Regions from separate parts of the Homo sapiens genome. Here region 2 is linked to region 1. The links come from fine-mapping of genetic effects on gene expression. A gene starts in region 1. The other region holds a variant in brackets. All regions are shown on one strand. Distances are between the middles of the regions. Region 1 holds the start of SHTN1 (shootin 1). Region 2 overlaps SHTN1 (shootin 1).

Evidence for each region.
Region 2: its variant is fine-mapped to the expression of SHTN1 in whole blood (TOPMed, PIP above 0.99). The same link has a PIP of 0.9 or more in T cells, blood mononuclear cells, lung and monocytes.

The regions. Positions count from the first base shown.
Region 1 is chr10:116,999,013-117,014,752 of GRCh38, reverse strand. It overlaps SHTN1 (shootin 1), which reads left to right and starts at 9,566. Exons shown (of 17, transcript NM_001127211.3): 1 at 9,566-9,731. The coding sequence starts at 9,674. RefSeq lists silencers at 9,390-9,469, 9,700-9,809, 9,681-9,975 and an enhancer at 9,790-10,483.
Region 2 is chr10:116,944,145-116,959,884 of GRCh38, reverse strand. SHTN1 (shootin 1) reads left to right here. Exons shown (of 17, transcript NM_001127211.3): 5 at 5,675-5,843; 6 at 7,879-7,976; 7 at 10,888-10,969; 8 at 14,867-14,961. Among named protein-coding and RNA genes, the nearest start is that of SHTN1, 53 kb to the left of the region's middle. The variant A/G (reference allele first, on the strand shown) is at 6,941.

The DNA.
Region 1 (15,740 bases):
GTGCTACTAGCTTCATTTTTCCCATGAGACCTATGGTTTTTATTGTACAATTTTGCACAGCATAATAATTTTTAAGAACACATAAGTTGTGTTGTAGCAGAACTGACTGTAACTTCTTTCTCTTATGGTGAGAAACCTGCCTCCCATTATCTACAGTTGATTTACTTATTTATTCAACCCTACCCTACATGTAGAGTAGTTTGAGAATTGCTAACCCATACTCTAGAGAGAGGTAGATTTGCCAGCTAGAAGGGTGCTGATGTATGGTTCCTTTTGTCTTCAGCCTTACGGTGTCCAGTCAAAGTACAGTTATCCAAAGTTTCTTAAGTCAGATCCTTTCCCCCATCCCTTCCCCTTCAGTAAGGTAATGTCATATATTAGTAATATGGTTCGATTTATTTGTCATTTTCTGCATTCTATCCTGGGATTTCCCTATCTTGGCTGACTTGTTATTAAATTTGCATGCAGCAAAGTCCATTTTTGGGATGTATACCTCTTTGGATTTTGACAAGTGCATTGAGTCATCTATCCAACACCCCTGTACCATACAGAATAATTCTATCACCCTAAAAATTCCCTTGTATTCCCCCTTTATATTCAACCCTTCCATTCGTCCTCAACCCCTGGTAGCCATGATCTGTTTCTTATTTTTATAGTTTTGCCTTTTCATGATGTCATATAAATTGAACCATATTGTATATAGCCTTCTGGGTCTGGATTATTAAATTTAACAGAATGCATTCAAGATCTGTATACACTGTATCCACTCAGTAGCTCATTCTTTTAAAATTGATGTATATATTCCATTTTATGGAAAAAAAATATATATATACACACACACATATTTGGAAGATATATATATTTGTTCATTCACCTATTGAGGGACATCTTGGCTTTTTCCAGTTATTGGTGATTATTAATAAAGCTGTTATAAACATTTGTATATGGGTTTTTCTGTGAACATAAGTTTTCCGCTCATTTGGGTAAGCCCCGGGAGTGGAACCACCAAGTTGTATGGCAAATGTATTTCTAATTTTATAAGGAACTGCTAAGTTGTCTTTCAAAGCGGCTGTACCATTTAAAATAGCTACCTGCAATTAAAGAGGGTTACTGTTGCTCTGTGTCTTTCTCAGCATTTGGGATTGTTCCTTTTTTATTTTAGCCATCCTAATAGATACATAGTATTATATCATTGTTGTTTTAACTTGCATTTCACTAGTGACAAATAATGTTGAGCATCTTTTCATGTGCTTATTTTCCATTTAAAAATATTTTTCTGGGCCAGGCATGGTGGCTTATTCCTGTAATCCCAGCACTTTGGGAGGCCGAGGTGGGCAGATCACCTGAGATCAAGAGTTTGAGATCAGCCTGGCCAACATAGTGAAACCCTGTCTCTACTAAAAATACAAAAATTAGGTGGGCGTGGTGGCGGGTGCCTGTAGCCCAGCTACTGGGGAGGCTGAGGCAGGAGAATCACTTGAACCAGGGAGGCAGAGGTTGCAGTGAGCCGAGATGGTACCACTGCACTCCAGCCTGGGACACAGAGCAAGACTCAGTCTCAAAAAATAAATAAATAAATAAACTTCTTTTGGTAAAGTATCTGTTTATATATTTTGCCAATTAATCTTTTTTACTTTTGACTTATTTTAATATTTATTTTTAAAAAAATTTATATAGTTTTTAGAGATGGGGTCTTGTTCTGTTGCCCAAGCTGGAATGCAGTGGTTCACTGCAGCCTTAAACTTCTAGGCTCAAAATCCTCCAGCTCAGCCTTCTGAAGAGCTGAAATTACAGGCACAAGCCACTACATTGGCTCTTATTGTTGGAGTTTTAAGAGTACTTTAAATATTTAGAATACAAAATATTAATATGTGATTTATTTAATGTGTGATACAAAATATTAATATGTGATTTTTAAAATGTGAATTAATATGTAATTTGTAAATATTTTCCCTCATCTATGGCAGGTATTGTTAATCTGTTTCTTTTATCTTTCATAAAATCTAATTTATCAATTCTTTTATTGATTACGCTTTTGGCATCGTATTTAAAAACTAATTGCCAGACTTTAGGTTACACGGTTTTTTCTCTTGTGTCTCATTTTTAAAGTTTTACTGTTTCAGGTTTTACATTTTGGTCTATTATCCATTTTGAGTTAATTTTTCTATGAGGCATGTGTTGCGGCTCCTTTTTATAAAAAAAAGAAAGGATGTCCAGTTGATCTAGCACCAAGTTTTGAAAAGACTTTTTTTTTCCCATTGAATTGGTTTTGTTACTTTGCAGAAAAAAAGTGATTCACTATATTTGTGTGGATCAACTTTTGGGATGGTTAATGCATCTTCCTTTTGCCAATACTACATTGTCTTAATTATTGTAGCTTTATAGTTAGTCTTGGAAATCAGGTAGCGTGAGTCCTCCAACTTTGTTCTTATTCAGAATTGTTTTGGCTATTCTAGTTTTTGTTTTGTTTTGTTTTTTGCCTTTCCATAATACATTTTATGATCAGCTTGGATTTGGATTGGGATTGCATTGGATCTATAGGTTAAATTTGGAAGAATTGACATTTTAGCAATATTGAGGGTTTTTTTTCCTTTTTCTCTTTTTTTTTTTTTTTGAGATGGAGTCTCATTCTGTCGCCCAGGCTGGAATGCAGTGGCGCGATCTCGGCTCACTGCAAGCTCCACCTCCCGGGTTCACGCCATTCTCCTGCCTCAGCCTCCGGAGTAGCTGGGACTACAGGCCCCGCCACCACGCCTGGCTAATTTTTTGTATTTTTATTAGAGACAGGGTTTCACCGTGTTAGCCAGGATTGTCTCGATCTCCTGACTTCGTGATCCGCCCTCCTCGGCCTCCCAAAGTGCTGGGATTACAGGCGTGAGCCACCGCGCCCCGCCTGAGTTTTCTAATTCATGAACATAATATATCTCTCCATTTATTTAGATACTCTTTGATTTTTTTCATCAGCATTTTATACTTTTTGGCATCTAGATCTTTCACATATTTTGCTAGATTTATACCTAAGTGCTTCAGTATTTTTAGTGCTATTGTAAATGTTATTAATTTTTAATGTCAAATTCTAATTGTTCATTGCTGGTGTATGGAATACAGTTGACTTTTGCATTTGTCTAATGACTAATGATGTTGAGCATCTTTTCAAGGGCTTATTGACCTTGTATCCTGTAACCTCACTAAACTCAAGTATTTGTTTTAGAAGCATTTAAAGAAATTCTTTGGTATTTTCCACATAGGAAATTTTGCCATCTATGAATAGAGATGGTACTGGCATAAGGACAGACATATTGACTAATAGAATAAAATAGAGAGCCCCAAAATAAATCCTCATGTATATCACCAGTTGATTTTCAACAAGGGTACCAAGACCACTCAATGGGGAAAGGACAGCCATTTAACAAGTGGTATTGGGAAAAGTAGATATCCACATGCAAAAGACTGAAGTTGGTATGAAGGTAGAAAAGGCCTAACAAAAATTAACTAAAAATGGACCAAAGACCTAAACTTAAGAGCTAAATTCAGCTAAAACTACTGAATTCATCTATTAGCTCTAGTAGCTTTTTCACAGATTATTTGGGATTTTCTCTATATAGCTATATGTCATATGTGAATAGAGATAGCTTTACGTCCTCCTTTCCAACTTGGATGCCTTTTCTTTCTTTTTCTTGTCTAATTGAACTTGCAGCACACTGTTGAATAGCAGTGATGAAAGCACATATTCTTGTCTCGTTCCTAATTTCAGGGGGAAAGCTTTCAGTCTTTCACCATTGACCATGATTATAGCTGTGGCTTCTTTACAGATGCCCTTTATCATGGTGAGGATGTTCCATCTATTACTGGTTTGCTAAGAGTTTTTATGGTGAAACGATGCTGACTTTTGTCAAATGCCTTTTCTGTCTCAATTGAGATGATCACCTGGTTTTTTTCCTATTAATGTGACATATTACATTGATTGATTTTCTTATGTTGAACCACTTTTGCATTCCTGGAATAAGTACTACCTGGTCGTGGTGTATAATCCTTTTAATGTGTTGTTGGATTTGGTTTGTTAGTATTTTGTTGAGGATTTTTGCAACCATATTCATAAGAGAAATTGGTGTGTACATTTCTTTTCTTTGTGATATCCTTATCTGGCTTTGGTATCACAGAAATGCTGGCCTCATAGAATGAGTTAGGAAGTGTTCTCTCCTTTTTTGTGTTTTAGAAAAGTTTGAGAAAGACTGGTGTTAATTCTTTAAATGTTTGATAGAATTCACCAGGAAAGACATCTGGGCCTGAACTTATTTTCATTGAAGGGTGTCTTTCTTTTCTTTTCTTTTCTTTTTTTAATACTTTCTGAATTACTCTACTTATAATAGTTCTGCTGAAATTTTCTTTTTCAGTTAGTTTAGGTGACTTGTGTGTTTCTGGGAATTTGTCCATTTCTTCTAGGTTATTTAATTTGTTGACATATAATTGTTCTTATTATTCTCTTAGAATCCTTTTTATTTCTGAATCATTGGTATTACTGTCCCCATTTTAATATCTGATTTTCATATTTCTTTTTTTTCTTCGTTAATTTAGGGAAAGGATTGTCAATTTTGATACTTTCAAAGAAATAGCTTTTTATTAATTCTATTATTTTTCTATTGTCTTTTATTTTATCTCCACTCTAATCTTCATTATTTTATTCCTTCTGCTAACTTTAGGTTTATTTTGCTTGTCTATTTTCTCAAGGTGTACAGTTACCTTATTGATTTTGTATCTTTCTTTTATAATGTAGTAATTAGAACTATAAATTTCTCTCTGAGCACTGTCTTCACGGTATTCCATAAGTTTTTTTTTTCTTTTCCTTTTTTTTGAGACAGTCTCACTCTGTCGCCCAGGCTGGAGTGCAGTGGCGCGATCTCGGCTCATTGCAAGCTCCGCCTTCCGGGTTCATGCCATTCTCCTGCCTCAGCCTCCCAGTAGCTGGGACTACAGGCGCCCGCCACCACGCCCGGCTAATTTTTTGTATTTTTAGTAGAGACGGGGTTTCACAGTGTTAGCCAGGATGGTCTCAATCTCCTGACCTCGTGATCTGCCCGTCTCGGCCTCCCAAAGTGCTGGGATTACGGGCTTGAGCCACCGTGCCCAGCTTGTATATATGTTTATAGTAATTATATATTCTTACCGAATCAACCCTTTTGTGAATATAGACTTTTGTTTATTGTAACAGTTTTTGACTTAAAGTCTGTTTTGTCTGATATTAATATAACCACCCCAACTCTCTTTTGGTTACTAATTAAATTTTTTCCTACCATTTTGCTTTAAATCTATTGTTGTCTTTGGATCTAAAATAAATATTTTGTAGACATCATATAGTTAGATCATACTTTTTTTTGCATCCTGCCAGTGTTTGCCTTTTGGAGAGTTTAAGCCATCTTCATTTAAAGTTACAGTTAATAAGAAATGACTTATTTCTGCAATTTTGCTATGTATTATCTATATGTCTTATAGCTCTTTTGCTCTTCATTTGCTTCATTATTGCCTTATTTTATACTTAGTTTTTAAAAAAATGTGTATGTTTTTGGTAATCATTTTGACTTCTTTCTCCTTTCCTTTTGTGCATATTTGGTTGATATTTTCTTTTCTTTTCTTTTTTTTGAGACAGAATTTTGCTCTTGTTGCCCAGGCTGGAGTGCAATGGCACGATCTCGGCTCATTGCAACCTCCTCCTCCTGAGTTCAAGTGATTCTCCTGCCTCAGCCTCCTGAGTAGCTGGGATTACAGGCATGTGCCACCACGCCCAGCTTATTTTTTATATTTTTAATAGAGATTGGGTTTCTTCATATTGGTCAGGCTGGTCTCAAACTCCTGACCTCCGGTGATCCACCCGCCCTGGCCTCCCAGAGTACTGGGATTACAGGCGTGAGCCACAGCGCCCGGCCAATTCTATAGTTTTGAGTATATTCAGAGAATTGTACAACCATTACCACAATTAATTTTAGAAAATTTGTATTACCCCAACAATTAACCACACACCTATCAGCAGCCATTCCCTGTTTTCTCCCAGACCTCCCCTACTTTCACCCCACCTCAGTAGATACTCACCAATCAACTTTCTCCCTCTATGGATTTGCCTGTTGTGATCATTTTATACAAGTGCAATCATACAATATCTGGTCTTTTCTGATCAAGTTTTCACTGAGTATAATGTTTTCAAATTTCATCTGTGTTGTACCATATATCAGTACTTTATTTTTATTACCAAATAATATTCCAATATTGCCATTTTCATATGATAATTAACATTACATTAAATAGCTCTGTACATAAGCCTTTTAGGATAGATTCCCTGATATAGAATTAGTGGATCAAAGACAGTGAACCTTCTTCTCCTCATTGTATTTCAATCTTATTTATCTGTATACCTCAAAAGATGACATATGTGATTTTACTTTAATTACCTGAAAAATTAAATAAAGATTAAAGAGAAACTCCTTCTTGACCACTGCACTTTCACACTCCAACCCCCACACCTTGGTCCTGTTCCCCTACTTTCTATCCCTAGAGACAGCCATTATCCTGAGTTTGGCACATATTCTTCCAATTCATTTTTTAAAAGTCTGTCCTTTATCTCTATGTATATATTTGTATATATATATGTAAACACACACATTTTTAAGGGTTTTAAATGACCTGTTATTTGGAGGTCAATAGTAACTCCAACGTGATGCCTGCAACATAAATCACTATGTATATTATTATTATTGAGATGGAGTCTCGCTCTGTCACCCAGGCTGGAGTGCAGTGGCATGATCTCGGCTCACTGCAACCTTCGCCTCTCGGGTTCAAGTGATTCTCCTGCCTCAGCCTCCCGAGTAGCTGGGACTACAGGTGCCCGCCACCACACCCAGCTTTTTTTATTTTTAGTAGAGACAGGGTTTCACCGTGTTAGCCAGGATGGTCTCAATCTCCTGACCTCGTGATCTGCCCGCCTCGGCCTCCCATAGCCATCACTCTGTATATTATTAAACGGAACAAAAACTAATTTATCACTTCTATCCTTTCCATCAATATTCATATCATATAAATAAACAATAGTGTAATGGGAGAACTGAATCCCAATAAGGACTCTAATAGCCCTCCTAATAATTCATACCATGTCCTCAAGTGAATGCCATATTGTATTTCAGGAGTTTTTTTTTTTTTTTTTTTTTTTTTTGAGATGGAGTCTCACTCTGTCACCCAGGCTGCAGTGCAGTGGCAGAATCTCAGCTCAGGAGCCTTTTCTAATTTTAAGGAGGATAAATGGGATTAATTGCAAGAGGCCGCAGATTTAGTATGGAACCAAAAGTTTGATTATAGATTTGATAATTAACTCATTCTTAAACTCCAGAAATACTATCTAACTACTGTATAATTGGAGTAGACAAATCAGCCATTAAAAAAAAATGGAACTTTGTGAACTAAGCCAAATATTTAATGGGCACTCTGCTTGTATTTGGTAGAGTGAGAGAGAATGAGTCAGGATGACTCATCAGGTTTAACAGGTTTCCCAACTGCTGGACAAAAGCTAAATGTCCATTATTTTTCATTAAAATCTCCCGGATTTTTTTATTATTATCTCCTGGGGATCTTCATGGCAGCTATCTGCAACTATCTTGAATTATCTTACGCATACCTAGGGAAAGGGCTGAATAATACAATCCCATATCAAAATTATTTTTAAACTTTAAACATTTTAATACACTGTATTAAAAAATACTATGCTGCCCTTTTAGATCATTCTACCCCTAAATCACTCATGCTAAAGTACTATATTGCCATTTTAGAGAAAGAGAAAGCAGTGCTACCATTTTTTTTTTCAAAATTTTAGTTAGCATGTAGTGAGTATCAGAAAGACACTAGTTACAGGATTTACCCATATCTCAACCTCACTCTACAACTATCATGGAGAAATGAACACAAGAAATGGAGCTGGGCACTTCCATAAAACAGCAATTGAGGAATGAGCAGCACTGTGCTGTTGCTGTACCCAAACTAAGAGCTTAGAGGTAGTGAGAAAAACCAAGCTGTGCAATAAGTCTAATTCAGTTTGGACTTATCTCCCATGCTTAATGATCAGTGTAAAAGAACTGCAACCTTCAGCTTATAGTCAGCAACCACAACCCCTTTCTCACAGACCTGTAATTTTTTTTTTTTTTTTTTTTTGAGACGGAGTCTCACTCTGTCACCCAGGCTGGAGTGCAGTGGCGCGATCTCGGCTCACTGCAAGCTCCGCCTCCCGGGTTCACGCCATTCTCCTGCCTCAGCTTCCCGAGTAGGTGGGACTACAGGCGCCTGCCACCACGCCCGGCTAATTTTTTGTATTTTTAGTAGAGACGGGGTTTCACCGTGTTAGCCAGGATGGTCTCGATCTCCTGACCTCGTGATCTGCCCGCCTTGGCCTCCCAAAGTGCTGGGATTACAGGCGTGAGCCACTGTGCCCGGCCACAGACCTGTAATCTTTATTAAAAACAAAAAAACAAAAAAAAAACAAAAAAAAACTGCATTATAAATTCTGGACTTGGTGTTTTGTTAATCTTCCTCTATTAAATCCTTACAACTCTTCCTTGAGAGTAGGTATCACTATTCTTCCTATTCTTCAGATGAAGTTCAAAGATGCAGGAGACTTGACCAAAGGTTAGCTCGCAACTAGGGGTTGGGGAGAAGCACCTTTGAAACAATGCAGACCTGCCACTTCTCTCCTGGGCATGGTCTAACACAGACATGAGTTCAAATAGTTCAGAGGGCAGTGAACTGGGACAAACGCTTGGCTTAACTGCCAGCCTCTGCTGCCCGGGGGCTGCGTGACCTTCGGCATTCGGACTGCAGTGGCACCCTCTCTAAAGGGAAGGTCATCCCGCCACCAACCAGATGATCTGCAAGGGCCCTCCAGGCCCCACCATCCACGTGCAGCAGGGTCCACGTTCTGACCACCTGGCAAACCTGGTGCGATGGGGGAAAGCTAGCCAGGGCCCTCCTTCACTCACGGCATGGTCATTTAAGTAGCTGGGCGGCCTGATTCGATCCTTGTCTCCTCTTCAAGGTGCAAAATGTACCACCCTGGGCCCGCCCCTGTGGGCAGCTAGGTTTTGCAACCGCGCCCCCAGAGTCTACTGCGGGAAAACTAGGGAAGAAGCCCAGGCGTTCATGGCTCATTGCGTCCCGCTCTACCTCTGTGGTTCTTTGGGAGCGACCCCCGGGAAGCGTCCAAAGTGGAGTTCCCACACACGCTGCGAACCCACAGCCGGTTTTCTCTGAACTCGCGTCCCTGAGTCCGGGAGGTGGAGGCGGAGAAAAGGGTGCGGAGCGACCCCACGCAGGGCCGCCCCCCCTCCCACCAGCGCGTCCTGCCGCGCCGGCAGCCACAGGCTGGCATAGCGGCTGCCGACCCGCCCTCGTTCCTCCACCCCCTGAACGGGACTGCTGGGCCCGCCCCGCCCCGCCTGCAGGTGAAGCGGCCGCAGCCGCCGAGTAGGTGCGTGGGGATGATCTCACTCGCGCGCTCCGCGCCAGGAGGAGGAGGAGCGGGAGCGGATCCAACTTCCGGGTAGTGGAGCCGCAAGCCACCGGCATCTTGCTTTTTCTTCCCCCTCCTCCTGTGTGCCCCGCGCCGCTCCCTCTTTCCCTTTTATTCCCGGCCCCACCCGCCAAAATGAACAGCTCGGACGAAGAGAAGCAGCTGCAGCTCATTACCAGTCTGAAGGAGCAAGGTAGGCAGCACGCGGGCGCCAGGTGTGGGCAGCCGCGGCCCGTGGGCGGGGACGGCCCCAGGGCGCTGGGGCCAGGGCAGTTGGAAGCCGGGCGGGAGACGTGGCGGCCGCCGTGGTCACCGCAGTAGCTCCGTCACCCGCAGAGAAGCGTCCTCCGTGGCCGGCGCGCCTGGGAAAGCTCTGGACCGAGGATAACGCGGAGTGTCGGGGCTAGTCAGGCCCCGCAGCTCGAGACCCGCTGCCCGCTGGTTGCGTTTGCTGGCGATCGGGGGCTGGGGGAAGGGACGAGGATTCAGTGCGGACGAGGTTGCACAGTGCCACCTTCCTTGCCGGAGAAGCGGGTGGGGCAGGATATTTTGGCTGCTTTGGGCGGCTCAGCTAGCTTGGCCCCACCCTTACACATTTGTTGGCGCTGGGTGGCCTGTAGGGCTGTTTCACACCCTTCCCAGCTTTTCGTTTGGATTCGGTCTAGTTCCTCTTTCCTTGCCCAGCTGGGATTTTCAGGCCATAATTTTTTTTTTAATCACTTCTCAATTTTAGCAGTTTATTAGTCAGCAAGGTCAACATCCTGCCAGTGTTGAGCTTTCAGAATTAACAGGGTTGACGCTGGGCGAAGGAGAGCCAGGCCATGCGCACGCATTTCTGTACTGCTTGGTAACTGGGGATTATCCTTTAATAAAGACCTGCTTCAGTCAATCATTTTTTTCATCAGTTACCACACTTCTGAACCAAACCAGATCAACAACCAAATGCTAACCTATCACATTTAAACACTTATCATTATTACCCTGACCAAAGGGTGGTCTGCGAATGTGGGTCAAGACAGGGAGGAACCAGCCGGGTGCGGTGGCTCACGCCTGTAATCTCAGCAATTTGGGAGGCCGAGGCAGGTGGATCACCTAAGGTCAGGAGTTCGAGACCAGCCTAACCAACATGGAGAACCCCTATCTCTACTAAAAATACAAAATTAGCCGGGCGTGGTGGTGCATGCCTGTAATCCCAGCTACCCGGGAGGCTGAGGCAGGAGAATCGCCAGGAGGCGGAGGTTGCGGTGAGCCAAGATGGCGCCGTTGCACTCCAGCCTGGGCAACAAGAACGAAACTCCATCTCCAAAAAAAAATAATAATAATAAATAATAAAGAAATAAAGGGAGGAACCATACAGATTTAAAGGAAGTAAAAATGTGTAGGAACATGTACTTTTCTGAATGTCTTGCTGACAAGACCATGTAATGGAAGGATCCCTGCTCTGTGGCAAAACCTGGTATTTAGTTGCAGCTCTTTCACTTCTCTTGGCCCAGCTCACCTGCTCTGTGAACTTGGAGGAGTCTCTTTCCTTCCGTGGATCTTCTGGTCAATCAAGGCCGACCTGACTAAAGGCGAGGGTGAAACTGGAGGACTTTCTGAGGTCCTGTCCAGTACTCTTACCTGTTGTTGCGTAAAACCACAGACACCGTTGGGAAGTGCTCCCGGATTCCTCTGAAGCCACACTCTGGCAAACAAATTTCAACATTACTGTTTACTGTGTGACCCTGGGGAAATTATTTAACCTCTGAAATGGACATAACACATTCTTCTGTGATATCCAGCATCTAGAAAGTGCTGGATAAATGTTAGTCTCTTTGGCCTTCCCAGCACCTTTACCTGGCATCCTAGATTAGCCTGAGGTCATAAAGTCACAAGCATCAGTGAATTTAGTGGGTGGACAGAATGCCTTTATCTGAAGTTTCTCAAGTGTTTTAGCGAGGGACTGGATTCTACTGACTGGTATTTTATATTTAATACACCTTCGCCCAACCCAAAACATTAAAACTTGATTCATATTCTAGATTTGTGGAGCTTTCATTATAGGTAATATCTGTCAGTGGATATCAGATCTTCTTATGGTTGGTCAGTTTTCGAATAATGATAAACATAAAAAAATTTTCCCTTTCATTTCTTGTATAATCAAGGGTCGATTAACAATGTAGATAATCTGCAAATTGCTTATATTTGATTTCGGAACACATTCTCCATTCCTATGTTGGGTTTGAGGCCTGACAAAAAGGATTTCTATATTTGTGGCTCTTTCTCCTATTGCATTGTATTGGAAAATAAACAAATCCTTGGCATTGGTATTTTTAGAGGATATATTTCCTTGATTAAGTGCATATGAAAGGTAATAGAACAGTTAGATATTCAAAGTTGTGTTTCTTAAAAGGTACACTTTTGGGGATAGTGAGTCTAGTTACAAAGGTGTTGGGATTTTTTCAGCCCACAGTGTGATTTTTATACATTTCAAAACCAGGTAGTTTGCTTGTCATTGGATCACAGACTGTGGAAACAATTTACTTCAAAAGTGTTCAGTTACTGTTTGACCTGTAGAACTAATTGGGAAGCTAGGGATTTGGAAGAACAGGTAACTGGGTCTTTGAGCATTTAACAGTACATACTATGATCAATTTTGTAAGCTGATGGTTGCATGGTTTATTTTTGAAAATAGTAATTTTTACTACCTGTTACTACCTTTTTACTCACAATGTTAATATTCTGAGTGATAATTCCACTACCCCTATTTAGTGTGAGCAAGAAGAACCACTATTTATCAAATATGTTATTTTCCCTTAATAATGCTGAGTAAACATATTTATTCATTCCTTCAACAAATACTTATCAAGTACCACCATATGTCAGGTCCATGTGGTAGGCACTAGGGGTGTAAATAGTGAACTACACAGTCCTTGTCACCAAATTAATTTTCTAGAAGAGAAGACAGGTACTATTCAAGTTATCATATGAATAAATGTACAATTACTTTTTTATTCTAGGATAGATTCTTAGAAGAAATGGAATTGTTGGATTAGAGGGCACGGACATTTACTTTTGCTAGACATTGCAAAAGTGCCCTCCAAAATGATTATACCAGTTCAGATATCCTTCAGCAGTACCCATTTCCCCACACATTGGTCAACTCTGGCTAATAGCAATCTTTATTCATTTGATGGCCTGACAAGTTTTTGAATTTTTGCCAATCTAATGGGCAGAATGTTACCTTTTAAGATTTGCATTGCTCTGGTTATTAGTGATGTTTGAAATCTTTTTACATGGCCATTGGCCATTTAGGTTTCATCATATGGGTCCTTCCTTAGTGATTTTTTTTTAAACTGATACATGAGACTTGTACATATTTATAGAAGACATGGGGTATTTTGTTACATGCTTAGAATGCATAATGATCAAGTCAGGGTATTTGGGATATCCATTACCTCCAGTATTTATCATTTCAATGAGTTGAGAACATTTCAAGTCCTCTCTTCTATCTCTTTTGAAATATATAATACATTGTTGTTAACTGTAGTCACCCTACTTTGCTATCAAAATGTTAAAACTTACTCCTTGTATCTAACTATGTTTGAACCCATTAAACAATCTCTCTTCATTTTGCCCTGCCTTAGTAAGTTTTAAGTCTAAAACTTGAACCAGTTCCCCAGGAGAGTGTTCAGAAAGGAGATTCCTGTCTACTCTAAACCACAAAGCTGACAGCAGCCTTCCCTAACGTGAAGCCTTTAGTGGTGTGGTGAATAAGGTTGCTTTTGACAAAAGTTGTGAAATGTAATGACGGAGTCTGTCATAATATGAACAATCTCTAATTTATACTTACCATTCCCTAAGCTCTATGTCTTATAAATCACACCCACTTCTGAATTACTTCAAAACATTTTATGTTCCCTCCTAGTGAATGGTATAATTAGCTATATTATGTCTTTCCAGAAAGTTATATTATGTCCCTTTAAAAAAAATTAGCCAGTGTGTGATTGCTTATGTTCAAGCAGATGTTGAGGTAATGAGGTAATTCTCCTTTTGTCTTTTTTGGGGCTTTATTTTATTGGACTGATTGACATCTTTAATGCACCGAGAAATGGCAACTTTGGATACTATTTCCGAGGCATATTTCCTAGCTACTAAAGTGGATATTTCCCTTACAAAACATCATACAATTTGCTCCCCCTCCGGAATTCAGTGGGAAAATGATAGACTTAGTTCAGCATTTGTTTAAGGTGCATGATTTTCTGTATAATTCATTCAGCCCACATGCATTGAATATTCATAGCCAGGCACTGTGCTAGGCATCAGAGAGATAGAGCTGAATAAGACCTTGCCTCTGCTGGTGAGGAGTTCCTGGTCTAGAGATAGTGCTAGGCATGTAAATTCCAGGAGGAGTGTCTGATTGGCCTAGTTTGGCCAATCTCATGTATTCAAATACTTTGGCCACGGGAGGGCAGGATACTTTAATTGGCAGCCCCTGCAAAGATTGGAGGAATAGTCCAAAACAGAATGGGGTGCACTACCATGAGGATGCTGACCGGGCAGACACAGACAACACATGTCTGCTAAACTGTTCAGTGTAGTAATGCCATGTCATTTCCAAGTTGATGAAATTTTGAAGAGAGATGGCTATTTAATAATAAGGACATACATAAGAGGAAAACAACCACCACCACCCCAATAATGGGCAATTTTTGGGCTAACAGTATTTAAAATGGATTTCCTATGGTGAGGTAATTGGTTTTAAAGCAATTTTAAACCTCTTTTCACCTTTAGAGTTAGTATCGTTTTCCCCAAGATTATTGAGATGATACTTAAGTTCACATGGAAATCTAGTCAAGCTTATTCTTAGAGCAAGTTAGTAATTAAAAGATGCATCCAGTATTCCATTGGCTTCTAGGCCAGGAAATAACTGGAGCATTATTTTGACAAAACAGTCTGAAACTATTGCCTACCACAATGACCACGTCAGTCTGGGAAAACGGAAGCATTGACAATCTTGGGTGCATATGAGATCAGCCAGTAGAAAGCTGTTTGGAATTAAATGTTGCCTTGTTTTCAAGTGCAAACTTGGTTTTACATCAGTATTTTTCAAAGTGTGGTACAAGGGCCAGCTGCATCTGAATCACCAGGTACTTATCAACAATGCATTTTCCTCTGAAAGTTAGGGAGTGGTTGCTGAAGAACAACAGTTTGGCAACCCCCCATGAGATGAACATGCAGTGTGGGCTAAGGAACTATGTCTTCTAGTCAGAATTTCACTATTTCCTTAATATTATTTATTTATTTATGTATTTATTTATTTGAGACAGAGTCTCACTCTGTCACCCAGGCTGGAGTGCAATGGCGTGGTCTCGGCTCACTGCAACCTCCGCCTCCCAGGTTCAAGCAATTCTTCCGCCTCAGCCTCCCAAGTAGCTGGGACTACAGGCATGTGCCACCACACCCGGCTAATTTTTGTATTTTTAGTAGAGATGGGGTTTCACTATGTTGGTCAGGCTGGTCTCGAACTCCTGACCTTGTGATCCACCCGCCTAGGCCTCCCAAAGTGCTGGGATTACAGGCGTGAGCCACCGCACCCAGCTGTGAACCTTTTTTAAAATAAATGCAAAAATAAACACATGCTCATAGAAAACAAGTGTGTAAAGTGAAAAGTACAATTAACTATTCTATCTGACCCATTGTTTCTCAATCTTTATTTCATTATCACTCTCCTAAGGAAACTTTTTAGGCGTTTTATGCACTGTGACTCTTTGAAGGGCCATAAGCCATTGTAATATCCAAGATCTTTTCTCTTATCTCCTTGAGGATGAAATCACTACATTGACAATGCATGCTATGACCCCATTCCCATTTCCCAAAGTTAACTACTGTTAACCTTTTGTTTTCTTTCCTTCCAGAAATTGTGTTTGTATGTGCATATGTATTTATCATGTAATATGTAATTTTTTATATTAGTACATGTAGCGTTGTCATTAAAAATTGATTAATGTTCCAATGTACAGACGTACCACAATGTATTTAATGTCCTCTGGATGGACATTTCTATCTTTCTTTCCTTGTTTTTGCTATTACAAATAATGCTTCTGGGCTGGTTGTGTTGGCTCACGCGTATAATCCCAGCACTTTGGGAGGCCAAGGTAGGAGGATACCTTGAGCCCAGGAGTTTGATACCAGCCTGGGCAATGTAGTGAGACCCCATCTC
Region 2 (15,740 bases), 55 kb after region 1:
TGAAAATGTGGAAAAAATGGTCCCAGAGTAGTGTTAAAGGGGACTTTGCAAATGTCCATGCATTTGGTTAAAATGCTAACCAAGTTTAAAACTAACCTGGTGTGACATAAAAGAGCAGTGAATGTCTCATATTTGAATCAGATGAAAAAGTCACCCTGAAGCCGTGCATTTCAGGTGATTATTTATGAAAGCAAAGCGAGGGCATGCTGAAGGTGACCTCCAGTGTTCCACTGATTGCCTCTTGCTGATGAATTTACCAAGTGTGTAATTTTCTACATTCTATCTCATCAGAAGTACATTATTATTAAAGAATGTTTTTTTTATCTCTGTCTTATGTATTTTGGGTTGGGTAAAATGCATCTGAACCACTTCATCAGAAAGTGGATTACAGCAATTTTCAACCAAATTTCATTAGTAATACTGGTTGTGTTTCTTTTCCCTCCCCTCCATCACCCACCTCCGAAAATTTCTTTGGATGTGACTGAAATCCTACTCTCAATAAATACATAAATAAATGTAATTTGTATGCATTAACAGTGTGCTTCCTAGAGGTATTTGCTTAATTGTTTGCATAACAACACTACATTAGAATTCATAAGATATTTAATCAGGACCTAACTAAGAATATAAATTTGGGTATGTAACTTCTCTCCTGTTATTCATCTGAAGAATACACAGCAATACACTTTAAAAACACTTTTTAAAAAATGATAACATGGGTATTCTCACATCATTTTTACTCTGCGGCACATTCCTAGAGTTCACTAGTCCGTAATGTTGTGTGAATTCTATTTTCATTTTTGAATTTCTTTCTTTGGAATAAGTAGAGAAAAAGTACATTTGGAGCCTGCTAGCTGCTCTGAATCTTCTAGTGTCTAAGGATATACTCTCTATTTTTTCTTGTTATTAACAAGTATTCCTGTTGTCATAGCACATCCAGAGTGAGGATACTGGCTACCTTTCAGGATTGGCAGAGTTTATGGAAGGCACTGGTTTGTGGGACAGTATATACAGGTTTTGTTCCTGGTTATGTAATTTTGGGCATATGTGATTTTGGACAAGTTAATTTTGTTCTCTGGAGTGTAGTATCTCATCTTAAATGACATGATGGACTAGAGTTAGGACTGGAGTTAATAATTTATTTGCATATGGCCCCTTTTAAAAAATTACTTTATTCTGTCTCCCCTTTTATTTAATAGGTGTTTTTGGGCAAGAGAACTCACCTCTCTGAGCTACAGTTGTCTTGCTCTAAATGCCAGGATGGACCATGGTTGGCTTCATCATAATACCCCAGATCCATTGGCTCTAGATGTGTGGCCCAGGCATGTGCATGTAGAAAAGCTGCCTGGTGACTGTTATATTCATTGCTCGTTACGAACCAGTGTTACCTAATCTCTAAGCTCATTTTTACAATTAAGTCTTAATAATAGGATCCTTACCTAACACTGTTTGTTGCCTGTTCTTTAAAAACCCTTTTTTAAAATGAACATATAGTTTATTTTTGAAGATATAGTATGAACTCATGGGGCCTAGAAAAAAATTTAAAAAATGGATTAAATCAAATACTATAAATGTGCTTGTTTGTTGTGAAAGACTGCTTTGAATGCAAAATGTGGAAACTTCATTATATGTGTGACTTCATTCTGATTTAAGTATCAATTGTCATTTTTGAAAGGAGGCTTTCAAAAATGCTCATTTTTTTTCCTGAGAGCAAAGTTTCTATAAATTCTTATTTTTCTAAATTTTTGCCATCAAATTAATGACAAATGGAATGTTTAATTCTGATGATGCAGCTTGACCTCGTAATTTTCTTTTTTTTCTTTTTGAAATGGAGTCCTGCTCTGTTGTCCAGGCTGGAGTGCCGTGATGCCATCTTGGCTCACTGCAACCTCCACCTCCCAGATTCAAGCAATTCTCCTGCCTCAGTCTCCCGAGTAGCTGGGATTACAGGCATGTGCCACCACACCCAGTTAATTTCTGTGTTTTTAGTAGAGACAGTGTTTCACTGTGTTGACCAGGCTGGTCTCAAACTCCTGACCTCAGGTGACCTGCCCGCCTTAGCCTCCCAAAGTGCTGGGATTACAGGCGTGAGCCACTGCGCCCAGTTCCTCATATTTTCTTAGAAGCAAGTATGGATACTTTGCTTTGCTAAAATGTGTAGATTAAACTGATAAATGTGGACCAGTTATTTAAGTCATATGATCCAAAGCCATTAAACTTGCTTGTTTTGTACCTTTAAATAGCCACTAAACTGGACAATATAAAAACCCTATTTACATTTGAATATAATAGTAGGTTCTGTTACTGTAGGGTTATAAAAGATATATTTTTGGCTGGGCACGGTGGCTCACGCCTGTAATCCCAGCACTTTGGGAGGCTGAGGTGGGCAGATCACCTGAGGTCAGGAGATTGAGACCATCCTGGCAAACATGGTGAAACCCCGTCTCTACTAAAAATGCAAAGCTTAGCTGGGCGTGGTGGTGTGTGCCTGTAATCGCAGTTACTCGGGAGGCTGAGGCAGGAGAATCGCTTGAACCAGGGAGTCAGAGGTTGCAGTGAGCTGAAATCACGCAGCTCTACTCCAACCTGGTGACAGAGAGACTCCATCTCAAAAAAAAAAAAAAAAAAGTAAAAAGATATATTTTTGCCTTAGACATAGAGGGGTTCCAAACAACAAGTAGCATGCAATTAACCTATAGCTTGATGAATAGCTACAATGAAATTACTTAGCCAAAATTTGTGAATTCAGAATTCTCAAAAATGTTCAAATAGTATGCACATAAGACCTCATGTCTAGGCCGGGTGTGGTGGCTCACTCCTGTAATCCCAGTGCTTTGGAAGGACAAGGTGGGAGGGTCACTTGAGCTCAGGAGTTTGAGACTTTGAGGCTGTGGTGAGCTATGATCATACCACTGCACTCTAACCTGGGTGACAGAGCAAGAACCCATCTCCAAAAAAACAAAACAAAAAAAACCCTCATATATATAAATCTTACATTTCTTCTTTCAAAATGCGAAAATGGGGTTTCAGAGAAGGATTATGAAATTTTCTGATTGGCTTTTTTTTCTTGAGCTGGTGACTTTGTTAAGTAGAGTAATTGTATTGCAGACAAACTGGTGGATTTTGGTGCCTGGTTTGATAGGGGCATTAAACCCTTTTGAGGGCAGAACTGTTAGCTATGATGTTGCTAAGGTATTATTGTAGTGGTTGTCTAAGAAGTAATATATTAAGCACTAGATGACAGAAACTAGTAGTTTCTTGAGTATCCTGGAGGAAGGAGAAAATGCCTAAATGAATACTTTGAAGAAAACTAGCTGATAAATGATTTCCAAAGGATAATTAGACACAAACTAAACCTCTTCTTACTATGAATAACTAACACTGAAGTTTTACTGTGTGGCAGTTACTATATTAAATACTTTATATATAATGTCTCATTTAGTCATCATATTGTGGGATACAGACTATCTTAATTCTTAGTTTACTGATGAGAAAACTGAAACATAAGGATTAGGTTAGTTGTAGAGGCAGAGATGGAATTTTATTGCAGAGCTGGGTTGTATACTAAAGCAATGCGTTTCTTTACATCAATGATTCTTAGTGTTGATGTACATTAGAATCACCTGGGAAACTGAAAAAGGGCTATGCTGGGCTTCACTGCCAGAGATTTGGGTATGGCATAGCGCCTAAGCATTGAGGTTTTTAAAAAGCTCTCCAGAGATTCTGATGGCCAGAGTTGAGAACCATTAGTTTAAATATTAGGATACAGAACCAGAAATTAAGTCTTAAATGTCTTCACTTTTTCCTTAAATTGATGTTTTCTTCTGACATTCCTAAAAGATGGGATAGTTTGAGAATTGACAAGTGAGGGTCCTTGAGCTTCGTGTGCCATGCTGTAGCATTCATGGTTTAAAGAACCCACAACAGTTTTTATCTGAATTTTCCAACTTAAGGAAGAGGTGTTGGGAAATGATGGGCCTCATCTTTTATCTTGATCTCCTAATGTAATGTGTGCAGACAGAAGCTAGAGTTGGAGACTGGGACTGAGGATAAAGGGTTGTGTCTGATTTCCTGAATAGAGCTTGCCAGTCTTCCAGGAAGAATCCATGGAAGAGTTCATAACCATTTCTTAGAGATTCTTCCTGATTCTCCAAAGAGGTCAGACAAACCTCTCGTGCTCCAGACCATGCCACTTTAGGTTCCATATTATTGGGGTAGAAATCAGATCTCCCAGATTAAAGTGGGCTGGGCTTTCTCTATGAGAAACCCTGAGGAACCCTAATTATGATCACAAATGAAAGAGCAAAGTCAGACCAGTGCTATGCTAAATATCTTATTCTAGTGTCAGGTTTACAGTGAGGAAAGGTAGTTATCTTTCCAATGAACTATGTTCATTTGTTTCCAATATCAATTATTAAATTCAGAGCATGTCTTCCTGGTCAAGGGCTCTAGTAAAGGAAATGTATTTGCATTTCTATAACTTACATTTTATAGTAGGGAAAATAATCTACTGATTACTTTGATGTGCGCAAATTAAGGAAAACTGTTTATTTTTTAGTCTTGGGAAGAGAAAATATGAGCAAAACCATATTGTACTTCTGTGGACATTGGAACATCCTTAGTCTTTGTGTGTGCTTTGTCCTAAATTTTCTTGTACATAAACACATTAGCTAAAGAAGGTGATAATAGTTGAATAACTGAAGTTAAAAAACCAACTCATTTCCCTGTCCGGGAATAAAAAATACATTAACAAAGTAGGATTCCTTTTTTTTTTTTTTTTTTTTGCTGTGAAGTAGAACTCTTTTAATAGAGATAGTAGAAACAACATCTTGAACTAGTTTAAACAAGAAAAGAAAATGATGTGGGATCTGTTAGAAATATCAGAGACTTCCATAGAATCTCTGAGACAGGAGCAGTTTAGGAATGGACTGGAGTCTGGGGCTTGAGTCTGGTGGGAAACCCTTTCTCTGTTGCTTTTCTCTTCCTTTCTCTACACATCAGCTTCAGTTTTAGCTTTTCTAAAAACTACCTTCCTCTTTTCCTTGATCCTATAGTGGAATGTGGTTACCAGCAGCTCCTGTCCAGGCACATGGAAAGAAACTCATTGCTCTGTTCCAGCCTCCAAATTTCTAGCGAGGGGATCTGACTGGTCACACTTGGGTCATGTGTTTAATCCCTGGACTAATTCGCTGTGGCCAAAGGGATGGGGTGTGCTTGGGAGAGCATGGCACTCCCATTGAAATCATGTGGAACAATGGAAAGTGGTAATGTCCAGAAAAGAGAGATGTTAGGCAAACAGACATTTAAAAGGTGTTCTCAGCACCACAGCACGCAGAAGATTTGCTTGAAATAAAGTGCCTTTTTTAAGACTATTAATGACTATAAATCAGAATTTTATTTAATCTGTACTGGTGTTTTATCTTAGTTCCTTATATTTCTCATCAGTTACAACTAGCATTTCCACTTGCTGCTGGCTGTAATCCAGACATCAGATCTTGGTTAAAGAAATAAATTTAATATAAAACCTTATTTAATGAATCCACTAATTGTTATGTCCTGCTGTGAGTGTTGATGAATATGTAAGACAAAAATATACTTAATTTGTCTATTGTTTAAAAATCCAAGATACTCATTTGGCTGCTTTTAAAATAACTGTTTTTATATTTTGTCTTAGCTAAATAAAGAAAATAAAACGTTGAAAAGAATCAGCATGTTGTACATGGCCAAGCTGGGACCAGATGTAATAACTGAAGAGATAAACATTGATGATGAAGATTCGACTACAGACACAGACGGTGCCGCCGAGACTTGTGTCTCAGTACAGTGTCAGAAGCAAATTAAAGGTAGAACTCTTTGCTTAATTATTGAGCATATTTTTTACCCCGTTATGATAGTGCTTCTGAACCCTGACTGCACATCAGAATCATGTGGGAAGCTTTCAAAATACTGATGCCTAGGCAGGGCGTGGTGGCTCACGCCTGTAATCCTAGCACTTTGGGAGGCCAAGGCGGGTGGATCACCTGAGGTCAGGAGTTGGAGACCAACTTGGCCAACCTGGTGAAACCCGGTCTCTACTAAAAAATACAAAAATTAGCTGGGCGTGGTGGCAGGTGCCTGTAATCCCAGCTACTTGGGAGGCTGAGGCGGGAGAATCACTTGAACCCAGGAGGCAGAGGTTGCAGTGAGCCGAGATTGCGCCGTTGCACTCCAGCCTGAGCGACAGAGCGAGACTCTGTCTCAAAAAAAAAAAAAAAAAAAAAACAAAACACAAAACTGATGCCTGGGTCCTACCCTATCCAAAATTTTGCTACACCATAGGCCAATTAAATCAGAATTTTGGATGGGGTAGGACCTAGGCATCAGTATTTTGAAAGCTTCCCACATCATTTATTTATATCTCCAAATCACCATAGGGTATATAACAATTGTGCTTTATGAGTTACTTTCTTGTTTGGAATTAAGCACTTTTGAAAGTGTCTCAATGGAAGCAGCCAGTTATACTATAACCTTAAGGATATGTACTATATGTCAAGATATTTTTGTTAAATGAAAGAAACAATGAATAAAAATATATTTAGCGACACCCCTTTTTGTTGGTTAACAAGTAGTGTTGTAAGGCAAGATCATATGATACATCTACTGAATGCACATTCATTTTACTCATACACATGTTTATTTAAAGATGTAGGAAAGCAGTTCTGGCTCAGTAACTATTGGAACATTTTAATTTAGTACACAGGTCAAAAGCAATATTCATTTATTTGTTTGGTAGATAAAATTTCAACTGGAAGTATAAAGAAGAAAGGATGTTACAGACACCATCTTTACCTACTCTTCAACCCCTCAAGCTAACACAAAATAGAATTCATGTTGGTAGGGAGGGAGAGGAAGTTTAAAGGAGTTCCCTTTGCTCATTATTCTCCTTTCTGTTCGAGCTTGA[A/G]CAATATGGTTTCATGTTCTTCTTTCTGGATTAGCCAGCAAATGGAGAAAGTGATTCAGAAATAAGTCTCTGAGAACTTCTCCAAGCTGAGTTTATGTAAAAAGTTTGATTTAATTTACAAATAACCACATAACATATTCTTTATTGCACTTGGAAAACAGTAAGAAATTAAAGGCAGTTAAAACCTAAGTGACAAAACAGTAGGCCAGAATATGAATTTGAGTAGTCTGTGCTAATCTATGTGTATTTTCAAACATTTGAGTGACAGAAGTAACTTTAACACCAGAAGCTTTTGCGCTTACAGTTGATAATACTCTCATTCTAGTGACACACTTTTCATTGAATCCTAATAATAAAACTATGAAATAAATTTAAAAACAAAACACCCATGACTCTAGAGAGAAAATTACTAGAATTAACCCTTCTTTCAAATAGTTATATTTTGAATCAGTTCAAATAATGTCTAAGGACTATAAATTGGCAGCAAGTCAGGATCTTTTACTTCTAATCAAAATATCCAAATTATTAACATCCCAATTGTTTATATTTTATTGTGATAACAGCCCATGGCATTATGAAATAAAAAAGAAATTAGTACTACACCTTAATTTGTTTTGCTGAAAACTTAAAAAATTTTACTTCCAAAATGCTAGATAGTTTTCTAGAATGTGGTTTTGATAGAATGCAAAGAAAACATGATCTGGTACATTTAATGTAGTGAGGTTGCCTGATATAAAATTGTTAATATCCATGGCTATTTTGGGGAGGGCCACGCAAATGAGATTCTCATTGTCCTTTGGTTCTTCATTTCTTTTTAATTGTTAAATAATCTTGACCATAAGCTGCACATGGACTGGCATTTTCAATTCTTTTGACCAGATTGATTTCTTATTTTAAAAATAAGTTTATTTATATATTTTTTTTCTTTAAAAATGCAGAACTTCGAGATCAAATTGTATCTGTTCAGGAGGAAAAGAAGATTTTAGCCATTGAGCTGGAAAATCTCAAGAGCAAACTCGTAGAAGTAATTGAAGAAGTATGTATCTCAGGCCTGAAAGGCAAGGGCTTTAGCATTTTCAAGGTGTTTGGGGATTTGCTAAGTTAAGAACTTAATATTATAAGCCAATTTCTAACATGAGAACCATGTACCAATTTTAATCTTCTCTCCTCAATTTCAGACATAAAAAAAGGTAGAGGAAATAAGATGATGAAGATTCATGTACCCACTAGCTAGCTTAATAAATAAAATTCTGAAATAGCATGGACATGTTTCCTGTTGTTCCCCCAGTTTTTGCTATGTAAGGCAAATTTGTAAGAATAGTAGCTACTATTTCAAGTCATATATTTTATTGCTGCTGGTAGAGAAAGAAGAGCATGTTTTGCTTTTCCGGTGAATGACTGGTTCAATTGGGAAGGACTGTCCCTCTGTGCATCTCCAACACAGGCATTTATGATAGGTGGTAGGATGGGTTCAAGTGGTTGTTTACAGAATCTTTCTTTTCTGGTGTTTTGTTTTGTTTGAGACAAGACCTAACTCTGTCACACTCAGGCTGGAGTGCAGTGGCATGATCACAGCTCACTGCCGCCTCAACCTCCCAGGCTCAAATGATCCTCCTGCCTCAGCCTCCCAAATAGCTGAGAGTACAGGCATGCGTCACCACGCCTGCCTGATTTTTAAAAATTTTTATAGAGATGTGGGTTCCTGTATTTCCCAGGCTTACCTTGAACTCCTGGACTTGAATGATCTTCCCACCTTGGCCTCCCAAAGTGCTGGGACCACCAATGCAAGCCGCTGCCCTGGCCTCTTTTTCCTTTTGAACTGTCTTTCAGAACAAGACCCTCACAATTGCCTTTTATTTGCACGAGGCTTCAAGGATTTGCCTTCACAGTCTTGATTCTGGATTTAATTTGTATCAGTGGTTCTTAGATTCTGTAGCCCAGCACTTCCCAACTGATGTGCCAACTGCAGCTTGATAAAGTGACTTATGAGCATGCCAACGTATTGATCCTGTCAGTGAGCAGCCTCATCCAGTTACCTCAGTTTGCACACACATATTGTCATTTTCTTGGAGGCCATGATGTAAAAAAGGTTGGAAAGCAGTGTCTGCCAACTTCCCAGCCTGAGCTCCTTTTATTATTGTGGCAAAACATTGTAACGAATGGGAAGAAGGAAGATGATATTTTGGAAAGGACCTTACCGTTGGACAATGTGTACCAGTTACTAATTTAAACCAAAACCAAAAATAAAGCCTACACTAAAAGAACCAGTTAATAGATTATCTGGAGGTGCTGATGGATTCAGAGCCACTTTCAGGACCATTATCTTTGTTTCTTAGTGTGCTCTGTTCCTCAGTTGTGATTATTTACTGATGATTCTCTCGCTTCCCACTTAGAGGTATTATTGGAAGACAATTCAACAATTATTTTTATTATGGCTATTTCAGACATCTGAGAAGGCATAATGAACAAAATAATGGGGCTGAGTTCAGTGGCTCACGCCTGTAATCCTAGCACTTTGGGAGGCCGAGGCAGGAGGATCACTTGAGCCCAGGAGTTGGAGATCAGCAAGACCTCCTAGCAAGACCTCGTCTCTCAAAAAAATTTTTAAAAATATTAGCCAGGCATGGTGGCATGTGCCTGTAGTCCCAGCTACTCAGAGGGCTGAGGTGGGAGGATTGCTTGAACCCAGGAGTTCCAGGCTGCAATGAGCTATGATCGTATTACCACCCTCCAGCCTGAGTGACAGACTGAGACCCTGTCTCTAAAAAAATTATTTTTAATGAACATCCATATACCTGCTACCCAACTTAATTCACAGAATATTAGCATGGTGATGAAAGCCCTGGTGTAACTCTTTCTGGTTGCATACTCCTTGCTCCCTGCCCAGTTTCCCTAAACAACTGTTATTCTGAACTTGGTGTTTATCATGTCAGTGCATATATTTACATGTTCACTACAATACATAGTATTTTGAGTGTTTTTAAATATTATAAACATGCCTGCTTTCTAAATTCAATATATTTGAGATTTATCTTCTACCTTGATATATGTAGCTTTACTTTATGTTCTTTTTTTTTAAAAAAACTTTTCTATAGTATTCTCTTTCGTTGATAGACATCAAAAGTTACTTCAGAAATTTAAATTTTTGTGGGAGTATTTATATGTGTTTTATTTAAGCCAAGAGTCATCAGAGTTCAAAGTCTTATTTTAAAAGTTCATGTTCATCTTACTTAAGTCAAAAATAATCAGCATTTTTATTTTATTGTATTTTATTTAAATTATTATACTTTAAGTTCTAGGGCACATGTGCACAATGTGCAGGTTTGTTACATATGTATACATGTGCCATGTTGGTGTGCTGCACCCATTAACTTGTCATTTACATTAGGTATATCTCCTAATGCTAATCAACATTTAAAATGAATACCAAAATTGAGTATCGGATCTTGACTAAATGATTCTTGTATTTTCTGGGTGATCTTTAGTTGGATTTTTGCATTAAAAATATGAATCATGGCTGGGTATGGTGGCTCACGCCTGTAATCCCAGCACTTCGGGAGGCTGAAGCAGGAGGATTGCTTGAGCCCAGGAGTTCGAGACCAGCCTCGGCAACATAGGAGACCCCATCTCTATATTCTTTGTTTTTTTTTAATTAAAAAAATATGTATCATATACATTGGATGGCTAGCATACTGTTATGTTTAGGTGCCAGTGCCAACTGGAATATATAAATAAGTTCTGTACCAGGTATACATCCTAACTTAAATAGCTATCCTTGAAGCTTTAAAGAAGAGCTTTAATAAAAAGTCCTAACACATTGAAACCAATTTCTGCTTTAAATTGTAACTTCATGTTGAAAGTTGAACAGCAATTGAGTATCACACATTGCCATATGTCCTGTTTTACAATTTTTGGTGTTTTCTCCCCTCAAAATTTCACATTTTTAGGTAAATAAAGTTAAACAAGAAAAGACTGTTTTAAATTCAGAAGTTCTTGAACAGAGAAAAGTCTTAGAAAAATGCAATAGAGGTAAGTCTGTCCAGTCTTTTTTTCTCAAATACGTATGCGGTGTGTTCTGTTTGCATATATTGTGTGTCATTTTACACCTGTGCCTAAATATGACTGTAAATAAAATCTTCTCCTATATTGTGATTTTCTAGCATTGTGTCTCTCCCATTTCCATTGTTTTATTACCCAACTTAGAGTCTGGGGACATCTAAAAGTGATTTCACTTGAGGAACAAGGAACCCACTCATTTTGAAACTTCAAACCGAAATACTATTTCTGTCTTACATATATCCAGGGATCATGGCCTTTTTAGCTCTCCCCTCAGCATTTATATGTTTGGTAGGTTATTTAGTAAATCTCAATCCAGAAGAGGTTAGGCTGTCTACATAAAACATGTAACATTATGTGATGAAATTTTAAATTAAGAGGATGTGGAAAAAGGGATAAAGGAAAGTAAGAGTTAGATTGGTATACAAAGTGCATACTTGTTCTGAGGTCTTGCACATTTCCTGCCTGTGTGTTTGAAATCTGGTTCTGAGCTGTCTGACAGTCAGTGCAATAAGAGATTGATGATCATTTAAATGAATCACATGAAAATGAACCTAATGATCAGGAAAAGCAGACCTGCTCTCCTGGTGAGAGGGAAGTGTCTCCAGTGGCTATATCCAGAGAAAACTTTGTGTACTTTGGGCAACAGTGACTTTATCCATCTAGTTATAAAACACAGCATCAGCTCTCATCGGGGCTGTTTCATGTATCTCCCAGTTTAAGACAAGGAAGTGATGCCAAAGTGTAGTTCTGCAAAAATAATTCTGGAAGTGGTAAGAAGAACTTAATATACTTTCTGTTCTCTCTTTTTCCCTCAGTCACTCTCTTTCCTTGTTTAGAAGCTGCAACACTAACAGGAAACCTTTGCGACCCAGGGCCTTCCCTATTGTTATTGGTGGTAGCTGTCAATCTTTTTGTGATTCATCAACTGGGAATTTTTTTTGTAAATAAAGGACCTTGTAGTTAAATGTGGGCAATATGCTGGATTGTAACATTTCTCCAAGTCTTTCTGTATTTAAAGATAGAAATGGTGTAGAATTTTCAGTCTTGATTCACTGTGCTAGGAAAAGGGTTCTGCAAGGATTAATCATGTAGATCTTGCCTTCAGAGAGTCCCCTGTCTAGGAAGAGAGAAAAATTATATAAATAAATACCTGACTAGGACCAACCTGATTTCTTTCAGATTCCAAGTCAGAAGGGCCAGGACACGTGAAAATTCCCTTTTTATTATAGTGTTCTGGACATAGAAAAGAGAGTCAATTATCTTGCCTGGGCTTCAGATCGTCATAGTGTTCTTTGTTTTCTTCATGAAATTTCTTGTTTAAATAGGCTTGAAAATCATTTAGCTCTCAGGGACCTATAATTCACACCAAAAAATCACCACTCTTATTGCTTTACTTATTAGTCTTTCATCTGAAGAGGCTGTAGATTGAGTACAGAGTTTGAAATTCTATGTCATTACGCAGCAAACCAGTCCTTAAGTCAGTTAGGATTGAAGTGCCCTGGTGGAGCAGTGTGTGAAGGCAGCTGTTAAGAGAGCCTTTTGAAAGATTTTGTTGGTATGACTCAGCTCAGGGTGGAGGTGACTCACCAGAAGTGGATGGACAGTGTGCTGTCTGCCCAGCTTGTGCCTAATATCTAATGGTATCGTCACTCCCTCTGTCCTGTCATTATCACTATTTAACAAAATAGGCCACTGAATGTTGAAAATAGCAAAGAATTTATATTACTTTTATTTGACAGGACCTTTTGAAGCTTTCGGTCTTGCAGTAACTCCTTGGTACAAAGCTCTGATTCTTTGGTTCTGAATGCATCTAAGGCTGTTTCTCTCCTTTGTAAATATGGAGAACACTTAAAAATAACTTATATGTCCAGGCGCGGTGGCTCACACCTGTAATCCCAGCACTTTGGGAGGCTGAGGTGGGCGGATTACTTGAGATCAGGAGTTTGAGACCAGCCTGGCCAACATGGTAAAACCTCGTCTCTACTGAAATACAAAAATTAGCCAGATATGGTGGCACGCACCTGCCTGTAATCCCAGCTACTCAGGAGGCTGAGGCAGGAGAATCACTTGAACCTAGGAGGCGGAGGTTGCAGTGAACCAAGATTGCACCACTGCCTTCCAGCCTGGGCGACAGACATAGTGAGACTCCATCTCTCAAAAAATAAATAAATAAATAAATAAAACATATATATATATTATATATATAAATCATTTTATATATTTATATATAAATCATTTTATATATTTATATATAAATCATTTTATATATTTATATATAAATCATTTTATATATTTATATATAAATCATTTTATATATTTATATATAAATCATTTTATATATTTATATATAAATCATTTTATATATTTATATATAAATCATTTTATATATTTATATATAAAATATTTACATTTTATACATATGTATATACATATACATAATTTATACATTTATTTACATTTAATATTATATATAATACATATATTTTTATACATAAAAATGTATATATTCAGGTAGTATACTTTTTTTGGTGGAAAATTTAGATTCATGTAAGGAAAGAAAAAAATCTCAACCTTTACAATCCAGAGATAAGCACTAGTACCATTTTAGTGTATATTCTTCCAATCTTAAAAAAAACTCTCTCTACATATATACATATTAAATGTTTTGTTAAATATGTTTATATATATATTTATATATATATGGAAGACAGAGGAAATACCAGTAAAAGGAATCTCTTTATACTTGCTGGTACCTTACAAACCCATGAACATCCCTCTCTACTCTTACCCCTCCCTTGAATTTTTATTATTTCCTTTCTTTTATTTGTAGTTTTGCCAAATATGTCTATATCTCTAAACAGCATTGTTTAATTTTGCATATTTTTGAACTCTATGTAAATGGAATCATTTTTCCTGTAACCTTCTGCAACTTTTTGTGTTTGTGAGATTCATGCATGTGGACAGGCATAGCTGTGGTATGTTTGTTTTCACTGCTATATACTATTCCATTAGATGACTACACTAAAATTATTTTAAGTAGTATCCTATTGGTAGACTTTGGGCTGTTTCCATATTTCTGCTATTCTGAGTCATGCTGTTATAAAAAATGTTAGACATGTCATCTGGTGCACATGTCCAAGAGTTGCTTTAAGACACATGCCAAATGTCAAATTTTATCTTCAGTTTTTTTTCACTGCATACCAAATTTAATAAAACCATGCTTTAAAATTTTTACCAGTTGCCTCTTGGATGGGTGTAAGAAGTGTTTTTACTCTGCATTTCCTTGATTCCTAATGAAGATGAGCATCTTTCCACATGTTTATTGGCCTTTTGTATATTTTCTATTCTGTGAAATGGCTGTTGATGTGCTTTATCTGTGGCTTTTAAAGAACAAAAATGAATTCACTTTGCACTAATTTTTGCAATCTATTTTTAAAAATACATCACAGATGTCTTTCCATTTACTAAGTATGCTTCTACAATATAATTTTGATGGCAGAATAATATTTCTTGTACTACAATTTACTCATTCTTCTGTGTTAGAGTATTATGTCATTTCACTTTTATCAGCAATGAGGTAGAGAGCATCCTTGCAACCAAATGTCTGTATATGCTCATGTGTTACAATCTTAGCATATGCATTCCTGGAAGTGGGATTATTCAAAGTGTATGAATAGTTTTAGATTTTTGATTCACGTTGCCAAGTTGCTCTCCAAAAAGGTTTTATCAGTTTGTATGCCAACCAGGAATGCATGAGGGTACCTGTATGCTGGTATGAAAAATCTTTTCAACACTGTTTTTCATCCATATTCCTGATTATTTGTGTGACTTATTGTCTGGGTTTTTTTTTTCCTTTATCTTCTTAAGTGTCCATGTTAGCTGTAGAAGAGTATGAGGAGATGCAAGTAAACCTGGAGCTGGAGAAGGACCTTCGAAAGAAAGCAGAGTCATTTGCACAAGAGGTGGGTATCTTGTAAAAATCTTATTTTTTTTCTTGAGACAGAGTCTCGCTCTGTCACCAGGCTGGAGTGCAGTGGCGCAATCTCGGCTCACTGCAACCTCCGACTCCCTGATTCAAGCGATTCTCATGCCTCAGCCCCCCGAGTAGCTGGGATTACAGGCACACGCCACCGTGCCCAGCTAATTTTTGTATTTTTATTAGAGATGGGGTTTCACCATGTTGACCAGGATGGTCTTGATCTCCTTATCTCGTGATCTGCTCGCCTTGGCCTCCCAAAGTGCTCCCAAAGTGAGCCACCGTGCCCAGCCGTAAAAACCTTTTGAATTTTTGTTTTGTAAGGGACCTTGCAGACGACATATCAGACAAATTCTTGAGGTTGAATAAGAACTTACCAGTTTGAATTAAGGATCTGCTGGTTTAGGGAGGCAGATATAGAATAGTATCAAGTTCATTGTCAAAAGATCTGGGCTCAAATTTTGGCCATGTCAGTTACTAGTTGTAGTAGTGTATGACCTCTGAGCAATTCTTCAGCCTCTCAGGGCTTCACTTTTACCATCTGTAAAATGGACAATAATACAGACCTGACCAAGTGGATTTTAATGGCAAAATTTAAAAAAAGTGTTGTATAAACTATAAAATGCTATGTAAGGGAAAGGAATTGCATTTGGAGACAACCCATGACTTGTGATGGAAAGTCCAACTTGGGTACAAGATGCCTGTACATTTCAAATAGGCTTAAAATCTGGGATGTATCTCCATATACCATCTCAGATAACAGTA